Homo sapiens: one gene and its partner. The protein of the gene in region 2 purifies or fractionates together with the protein of the main gene of each other region. This does not show direct contact. Each region holds a gene or a part of one and is shown on either strand. Other genes may lie near its edges.

What was found. The genes of interacting proteins can lie anywhere in the genome.
Region 1: the proteins of ARHGEF10 (region 2) and DNAJB5 purify together in Homo sapiens (affinity purification with mass spectrometry; 3 studies listed by BioGRID and IntAct, with this or other methods). This does not show direct contact.

What each region holds. Positions count from the first base shown.
Region 1 is NC_000009.12:34,994,822-34,999,001, reverse strand, and holds the end of DNAJB5 (dnaJ homolog subfamily B member 5), read right to left. Parts: intron 2,738-4,180; coding exon 2,136-2,737; intron 1,977-2,135; coding exon 1,743-1,976; 3' UTR 574-1,742; downstream 1-573.
Region 2 is NC_000008.11:1,952,064-1,956,872, reverse strand, and holds part of ARHGEF10 (rho guanine nucleotide exchange factor 10), read right to left. Parts: intron 4,169-4,809; coding exon 4,046-4,168; intron 125-4,045; coding exon 1-124. UniProt on the Homo sapiens protein: May play a role in developmental myelination of peripheral nerves.

The sequences.
Region 1 (4,180 bases), on a different chromosome or scaffold from region 2:
TCTCTACCAAAAATACAAAAATTAGCCGGGTGTGGTGGTGCATGCCGGTAATCCCAGCTACTCGGAGGCTGAGGCAGGAGAGTCGCTTGAACCTAGGAGACAGAGGCTGCAGTGAACCAAGATCGCATCACTGCACTCCAGCCTGGGCGACAGAGCAAGACTCCGTGTCAAAAAAAAAAAAAAAAAAAAAAAGTTCTCCACCCCCTCCTAGAAAAAAATTTTCTCCTAGAAGGAAAATTTGTCTGACTCAGAGAAAATTTAGACAAGAAGAGAAAATCTGTTTTCATGCTAGCACATCTGAAGACAATGGTCTCTGTCTCTCATGAGCAGGGATATTTTTCCTTCCCAAATAGATGTTTCTTCTAATAGCTGAGTGGTACTTTCTGTCTGTGCTGTGTTTGAAGTATAAGTTTTAGAAATCCCAGGAGGCTTCGAGGAAGGCAGAGGTCAGCTTCAGCTTATACTGAGGGCCTGCTTGGGCTTCTCAAAGGTGACCAGAGCCCGGGAGGGAGGATGACAGTGGCCCTCCTCAGCCACCCCCATCCCAGGTTTGTTGCTCCTGCTCAGATGCCATATTTTTAAAATACTTTATTTTTTACATAATACTGTCATTACAAAAAAATACAAAAAAACTACTATAAAAACATTCGGGGGTTGTCAAAGTGAGAAAACCTAAAGACCCCACCCCAGGATCTGGCTGAAGCAGTCTTCCCCCAGCTTCTTCACTATGACCTTTATACAACTATGGGGGTGGGGTGGGATCACACAGGCATAAAAGGGCTGGAAATTCCCCACACAGCCTCCAAGGGTAAGAAATGAGTAGCTTCACATATCACAAAAGTGGGATTTGGAAGTTTGGGGGTGGCTAGGCCCTGAGTTCAGAGGTGTGGGGAAAAACCTGTGACCCTGAATCTCTTGGTGGGGAATAGCTGCCACCTGACCCCAAAGCCCTTTCCCTTCCTGATGAAGGCTGGTAGATGGGCCCTGTCCCCCACCTCTTAGCCTTAATACCTCAGGCCCCATTCCCTGCCCTCCACCCTTGAACACTCCTGAGAGCAGCAGGGAGGACAGAACCTCCAGCTCTGCAGGTGTAGGCAGGGCAGCTGTTACGGAGGCTGCTGAGGAGCTCACCCCCCTGCTCCAGATGAAAAGTGTCTCGTGCTCAAGTCCCTGTTCACAGGTTGTGAACTTTCCCTTCTTATCCTCTCTCCTTTCTCCCAGAGAGGCACAGACAGCTCTAGGTGAGTGCTTCTTGTGCATGAATATGTGTGCCATTACCTTGGACACTGTGGACCTGGGGGTGGGGCTGAGAAAGCAATGTCCTTTCTAGTCTTTTCCACCCCCAACAGCAGGAAGCCAAAGGGAAGGGAGGGGACTGGTATTAGCAAAGCTGAGGGGAGGAGGACATGCTATGTACAGGCATGGATAAGGAATCTCTACATATCTTCAAGTAGCACTCAGGTCACTCTCCAGCCACTGCAGTGGAAACTGGATTGAAAGCTAGTGACATGAACATTGACCCCTGGCCTGGGCTAGCTCTCCCCACCTCCCTCCCACTCCCCCCAGGCAGCCCAGCTCTAAAAGGGGTCAGGGACAGGAACATTTTCCTGAAAACCAGTGGCTTTTTTTTGCATTTTAGAAAAAGTTGCCAGTGTCCAGTGGACATCAAGCTGGGTGCACATTGAGTGGAGTGAGTGTTGGGGGTATTGCTGTGGTAGGCTCTGGACTGGCTGGGGCAGAGCCTAGGAACAGGGTAGGTGCTGCTTAAGGATCTGTCTTGTCTGTGGTGTTAATCTGTCTGGGAAGCGAACTTTGAACTCAACAATGAGGTCTCCTCGCTGAGTTGGCACTTTGGGGAAGGGAAGGCCCTCCCCACGGAGTCTCTTCACGGTGCCTGGCTTGATGACATCATTGCAGGGCAAAGGGATCACTCGGCCGTCGATAGTGGGAATGTTCACAGTGCAGCCACACAGCGCCTGGGAAAGACGAAGCAGAAAGTGAGGAAAAGGTGGGGTAAGGTGAGTGGGAAGGAAGGAAATAGACTGAGGTGGGGAAAGAATGTGCCAGCTGGCGGGAAGAGAGGGAATGTCCCCACCATCTCCCCAGCACACACACACAGCCTGACTAGGCCCCACCTCCTTGAGGCTGATCAGGGCACTGTAGAGCACGTTGGTGCCATCTCGGCGGAAGTGTGCATGGGGCTTGTCTTTGAGCACAAAGACGATGTCAGCAGGGATGTTGTCAGGTGTGGCGTCGCCTTCTTTGGGGAAGGTGATCTTGGTGCCTTCCTTCCAGCCACGCTTGATGACTATGTGCAGGATCTTGTCCTCGGTGCGCACAGTTCGCCCATCAGGGTTGAGGCGACGCCTTGTGATCTTCATGCGCTTGGTGGAGCCATGGTAGATCTCCTCCAGGGACACCCGCAGCTCGTGCACCACTGGGGGGTCCTGCACCTTGCGCCGAGGGTACAGTGGTTCTGGGGCTCGCCTTGGACCCCTACTCAGCCCATTGAAGCCAAAACGGCCGAAAGCGCCAAATGGGTCCTCATCTTCATCCACATCCATGTCATCTGGGTCAAAGCCACTGAAGGGCCGAGTGGAGCGGCTGCTGGCAAAGAAGATATCGAAGGGGTTGGAGCCACCAAAGAAGGAGGCAAAGGTGGCATGGGGGTCCCCATGAAAGGTGTAGTGAAAGGAGCCACTGGAGCCACCTGATGTGCCACCGCCGGTCTTCAGGCCTAGAGGGGAGGAGAAGTTAGGGGCAGTGTGGCTTATTCTGGCCCCAATCCCAGTGTCTTCCCCCTGCCCTCTAGCTCCCAGTTCACAGGCTTAAAGAAAGAAGCAACCTTTAAATCCCACAGAGAGGGCCAGGCTAATAGAGTAAGAAAGGCTTCTGGCAAGATTATCTTCCATTCCTAATTATATATTTAATAACGATGCACAACTTGAGATTCAAAGAGGCTTGCTTACCCAATAGGTGGAAAAGCCAGGACTAGAGGACTTAGAGGATGTGACTTCCAGTCCTGTAATCTTTTCCACATACTCATGGTCCAAAGATGTCTCAAAAAGCCTTGAATGACTAGCCTGGTGTCACATTACAAGTGATACTTGGTTCCCAAATCTTTGCTTATCTCCAAAGACATATAGGACAAGGGGCCATCAGACAGGATGTGACCACAGAGGGGGCTGGTAAGTGAACAGTCGCAAATAGGCTAGGGATCCAACCCGGGAGGAAGACCACTTTCACTCTGCTTCTAGCAGTGTTTCCTCTTTCCCTGGCCCCTGCTCAAACGGGAAATCAGGAAGCCTTAAAAAGTGGGAAAGCTCATTAGCTTGGAGATGAAGAGCTATTTTTCTAGAAAAAGTTTTTAAATGCTTTGTTCCCACACTCTGCTCGGTGTTACACAACTTTAGGGAGTGTCATTCACACATTGTACAGACATAGACTACAATGGGAATGGAGCTCCCTGGAGTTATACAACAGCAAACGCCATACCCCACACCTAATGTTGAGCAACCAAAATGCATGAATGGGCTGGCACATGGCAGTGGTGACCTTAGCTGCTCTCTCTGTCAGGTCCTGTCTAAGGGGCTCAGATTCCTGGAGGCAGCCTTCATGCACAGGAGGGGGTGCTGGCAGTAGTGGGGGATGTGGGGAGACGGTTCACACTGAGAACTGCTCCGGAATACAGAGACTATGGGTGGGGTCCAGGCTAGGAAAGAGACCCTTCTCTTTGAGGCCATTTATCTAGAATTTCAACTGATCATGGAGATCTGAGCCTAAATTAGCCTCTTATTTCCTGGGACCACAAGGGCAGATTTGAGTTTCACTAGAGAGGCCAAGTGGCAGACGGTTCAGGGACTTGTGGCAGCTGCCTCTTCACCCCTCCCCCAAGACCTAGGATCTCTCCTTTCCTTCTATCGAGGGGCTGATTATCAAGCGAGTTCAAGCAGCCTGGCAGAGCTCAGTGAGAGAGGGAGGGAGGCTGGACTGATGATGATGGGAAGGGGTAATTCTCTCTATAGGGATTTCTATTCTTCCACTACCACCCCCTTTTCAAGCTGGGAGCAACTTGTCCCTAGCTGGAGCTGCACACAGAGTCTGTGTGTATAACTGCTCTATAATAAATGGCTGCTGGGGATTGGGCAGGGTGGACAGAAATATAACCAACATTTCTAAG
Region 2 (4,809 bases):
TGAGGCTCGGGGCCAGGAGCCAGGCTGTCCCTGGATTTGTCCTTGTCTTTCTCGTGCAGAGCCGTGGCCAGGACGATGAATTTGACAGGACTGTTGTGTGCATGGTAGGAGACCATGCCTCTTCCTGAAAAGGGAAACAGTTCAACAGCTGTCTTTTAAAATAGGCAAAATTTGAGACAAGGAAGCAAAAAGTGCAGGGCTTAACCCCAACGCATTCCTCCCTGCCCAAATAACAAAGCCTGTAAGTAACTTGCATACATGAATAATAAGCTACGATGAAAATATCTGGATTATATTCCTCTGGGTTTTTACTTAATGTGAAAAAGGCTTTAAAAATGATTTTCTAAAATAGAAAGTTGTGTTTTCCTCAGCACTATTTCAGTTCTAATACTCCTACTGTACTTTTCAAAGTAATAAAATAGTCATTTTTCCATTCTGCATAAAATACCTTCTTACTTACCCTATGGAAATATCCCAAATTTTCCTAAGTCTTGATTAGAAATATTAACGCCTGAAATGTGTTGGTTTGGGAAAGAAATGACTAAACTACCGGCTGCCTGCCATTTTTCATTACAAAAACGTTCTGGGGTTCAGAACAATTTAACTCTATAATTTGATTAAAATTAGGACTTTCAGTTTTCAGGTGATGTGATTCAAATTTTAAAGTCACGATCGTATCAGAAACACCTGCAGGTCTTCTTAAAGCCACACACAGCCCCGCAACCCCCACACTGATTCTGTAAGCATCACGTGGACCTGGCGTGTCTTCTGGATGCTTTGTGGGTGACATGACATATGGACAGGGGCACGTGTCCTTTCCCCAAGTGCTTTCAGATGAAACAGGCCCCAGCCCTCACCATCATCCTACTCTGGCCAAGGCAAATGACATCACTGAATCTTCCACCGTGGTGAGAGTCCATTTCCCAAAGAGGAGAGTGGCAAAGTGAAGTCTGCAGGGAGCAGGAGCTGGGGGGACTGTGCAGGGACAGGCCCGCTCATCACCTGGCGAAGCACACACCTGTGATCCCTGCACACCAGCGATGCTGCCCCTGGGCAAGCCCCCAGAAGGAGCTTCTGCCCATGTCAGCAGAGCCAGCCACACAAATATACAGAGGCTTGATGTGTAATGCAAATGGGTAGCACCTAGCTACCATCCAAAGAAACACAGTGAGTGCACGTCCTTTCAGGAAGCACCTAGCTACCCATCCAGAGAAACAGTGAGAGTGCACCTCCTTTCAGGAAGCACCTCGCTACCCATCCAGAGAAACAGTGAGAGTGCACCTCCTTTCAGGATGCACCTAGCTACCCATCCAGAGAAACAGTGAGAGTGCACCTCCTTTCAGGATGCTCCTAGCTACCCATCCAGAGAAACAGTGAGAGTGCACTTCCTTTCAGGATGCTCCTAGCTACCCATCCAGAGAAACAGTGAGAGTGCACCTCCTTTCAGGGAGCACCTAGCTACCCATCCAGAGAAACAGTGAGAGTACACCTCCTTTCAGGGAGCACCTAGCTACCCATCCAGAGAAACACAGTGAGTGCACCTCCTTTTAGGGAGCACCTAGCTACCCATCCAGAGAAACTGTGAGAGTGTGCCTCCTTCCAGGATGCACCTGGCTATCCTCCAGAGGAACAGTGAGAGTGCACCTCCTTTCAGGAAGCACCTGGCTACCCATCCAGAGAAACAGTGAGAGTGCACCTCCTTTCAGGGAGCACCTGGCTATCCTCCAGAGGAACAGTGAGAGTGCACCTCCTTTCAGGGAGCACCTGGCTATCCTCCAGAGGAACAGTGAGAGTGCACCTCCTTTCAGGGAGCACCTAGCTACCCATCCAGAAAAACAGTGAGAGTGCACCTCCTTTCAGGGAGCACCTGGCTATCCTCCAGAGGAACAGTGAGAGTGCACCTCCTTTCAGGGAGCACCTGGCTATCCATCCAGAGGCAATGAGGGCACCTCCTTTCAGAGGCAGGCTGCAGGCAGGGAGAGGAAAGCACTATAGCTGTGGCACCAGCAGGGACTGACCCCAGCAAGGCTGAGAGAAAAAGCAACAGAGGCTGCTTGCACCATGGGACAGCTAGGAAAATGCAAAAGCCGGAAAGGTGAAAAGTACCCTTTAAGATACAAATTGGTACAACTACAGAGGAGGACCAAAGGAATAATTGACGTAAAACTCAGCATCATCATTTCCTAGGGTTGTGAGCAGAGAGGGCTGAGGCTGAGAAGGGGCAGCTGAGGCTCAGTGTGTGAGTCACAGCCCCTTCTGACCTGGGCACAGGCAGGTGGCCTCTTCTCGTTACCATTTAAACTGTGAAACTGTGCGTTATGCACAATTCTATGTATTTACAGGCTGAGTGTCACTTATCTGAAATTCTTGGGACCACAAGTGTTTTGGATTTTTTTTTTTAATGTTGGAATATTTGCATTGCACTTGCCGGTTGAGCATCCCAAATCTGAAATCCAAAATCTGAATTCCTCCAATGAGCACTGCCTTTCAGCATCACGTCGACACAGAATTTGGAGCATCTGAGGCCAAGGCAGGCGAATCACTTGAGTTCAGGAGTTCGAGACCAGCCTGGCCAACATGATGAAACCCCACCTCTACTAAAAATACAAAAATTAGCCAGGCATGGTGGCTGGTGCCTGTAATCCCAGCTACTAGGGAGGCTGAGGCAGGAGAATAGCTTGAACCTGGCAGGCAGAGGGTGCAGTGAGCCGAGACTGTGCCACTGGACTCCGTCCTGGGTGCCAGAGTGAGACTACGTCTCAAAAAGAAAAAAAAAAAATTGGAGCATTTCGCATTTTGTTTTTGGATTTGGGGTCCTCAACATGTACAATCCCATATATCATAATAAAAACATAAATTAGGAAATGAATGGCAAAACTAGAATTCCTTAATCCTTGTGGGTGGACCTGCCAAAATCTGAGTGCACGGAAGCCACCGTCAGGTCGGCCTGGGAGGAAATCACAGAAATGGAGCCCGTAGGAACAGTTCTGCTCTACAAGCTTCCTGCAAAGCGTTTTCTCTGTTAGTATTTCCCCCTGGCTGACATAGTAACCCACATAGAATCTAAGGCTGTGGTTTACTGAACTTAACAGGACGAGGAGTTTTCCGCGTCACTGCAGGCTCTGCACACACCACTTCTGCTGGCTGTGTTCTACCCATTACCGGCAATGCCACCATTTTATTAAATGGCCCAATCCGTCATTACGAACTGCGGGTCACCTCCTGTTTCGTGCTGTTAAAAATTAAATGCTGTGGCAAATGTCTTCTTGCATCATACTTTGTTCCTAGCTTAGGCTGTTTCCTGGGCCAATTCCCTGGATTGGGAATCCTGATTCCAGACACACAAGCATGTTTTAAGGCCTCCAATCCCTAACGGGACTGTGTCCAGAAAGGCCATGTGTTCCAGCCTGAGCTCTTACTGACATTGCAATAGCACAATGGAGCCTTTTCGGATCCCCGGCTTCCTTCTTCACAATATAAAATACAGAAAGGAAAGACGGAGATCCCGGCTTCCTTCTTCACAACATAAAATACAGAAAGGAACGACGGAGATCCCGGCTTCCTTCTTCACAACATAAAATACAGAAAGGAATGACGGAGATCCCGGCTTCCTTCTTCACAATATAAAATACAGAAAGGAACGACGGAGATCCCGGCTTCCTTCTTCACAACATAAAATACAGAAAGGAATGACGGAGATCCCGGCTTCCTTCTTCACAATATAAAACACACAAAGGAACAACGGAGATCCCGGCTTCCTTCTCCACAATATAAAACACAGAAAGGAATGATGGAAACTAATTCTGGCAGTAAACAGAATATAAAAACATAAGATTCTCCTTGGACTACTAAGGTAAAAAATGGAAAAATATATAAATTGATAATTCCAATTAAACAGTCTATTAAGTCATTATAATACACTGAAAAACCACAGATAATATGAATTGTTTAAAGAATCCTAGGATGTTAAATCACACTACACACTGCTATGCTCCACGAGCCTGCAAGACAGGATGCAGCCACTCAGACTGCAGGTGCCACTCACCGGTCACTTTGGGAATCCCTTGCAGACGTGGGACCGGCAGGGCCACGAGGACTCCCAGGCTGGTGCCGACCATCAGCAATCCGTGGCAGACGAGCAGGCTCGTCACCGACAGCCGCTGGTGCCCTGGGCGGAAAGACATGAGTGGCTTCGGGTCTGGTTTGTGTAGCAGAGTTGGTGGGGCGGTGACGGGGTGCTGGAAACCCCACAGGCCTGTCGTGCCACCACCAAATCCGCCAGGGGCAGGATGTGGCACAGGAGTTCCCAAACCCGAGCACCAGGCTCCCTCAACCACATGAGCAAGACAAGGGTCTTGAGGGCATACCCTGCACCTGCACCTGAACAGAACAGGCCAGATGTCTGGTTGGGTCTCCTGGGCTGTCGTCTGCATGGCTCTGCTTGGCCGCTTCAGCCATGAATCAAGCCCCTGGATGAATCTGTCTAAACCTTTTGCTTCTGGGCCGTGTAGCACGTGAGCTCGTGAGCCCCCGACATACACAGCGGCCTGTGGTTCTTTGGGAGCAGAGAGACCCCTTTACAAGTGAGGAGAGGTCTCTTAATGGGCGCGGCTGGACTCGAGTAACCGGCCCTCAGCCGCAGTTGGACCCTAGAGGGGAACTGAACGGCCTCTCCAGGGCTCTGCGTGAAGAACAACATCGTCACACAGCCTCAGCGCTGGACACAGCAGGGAAACATCACGGTGGATGGTGGGGTGAGAAGGGCCTTTGAGGCTCTTTGTTAGTTTGGTTTTGATTTGCTTTACAGCC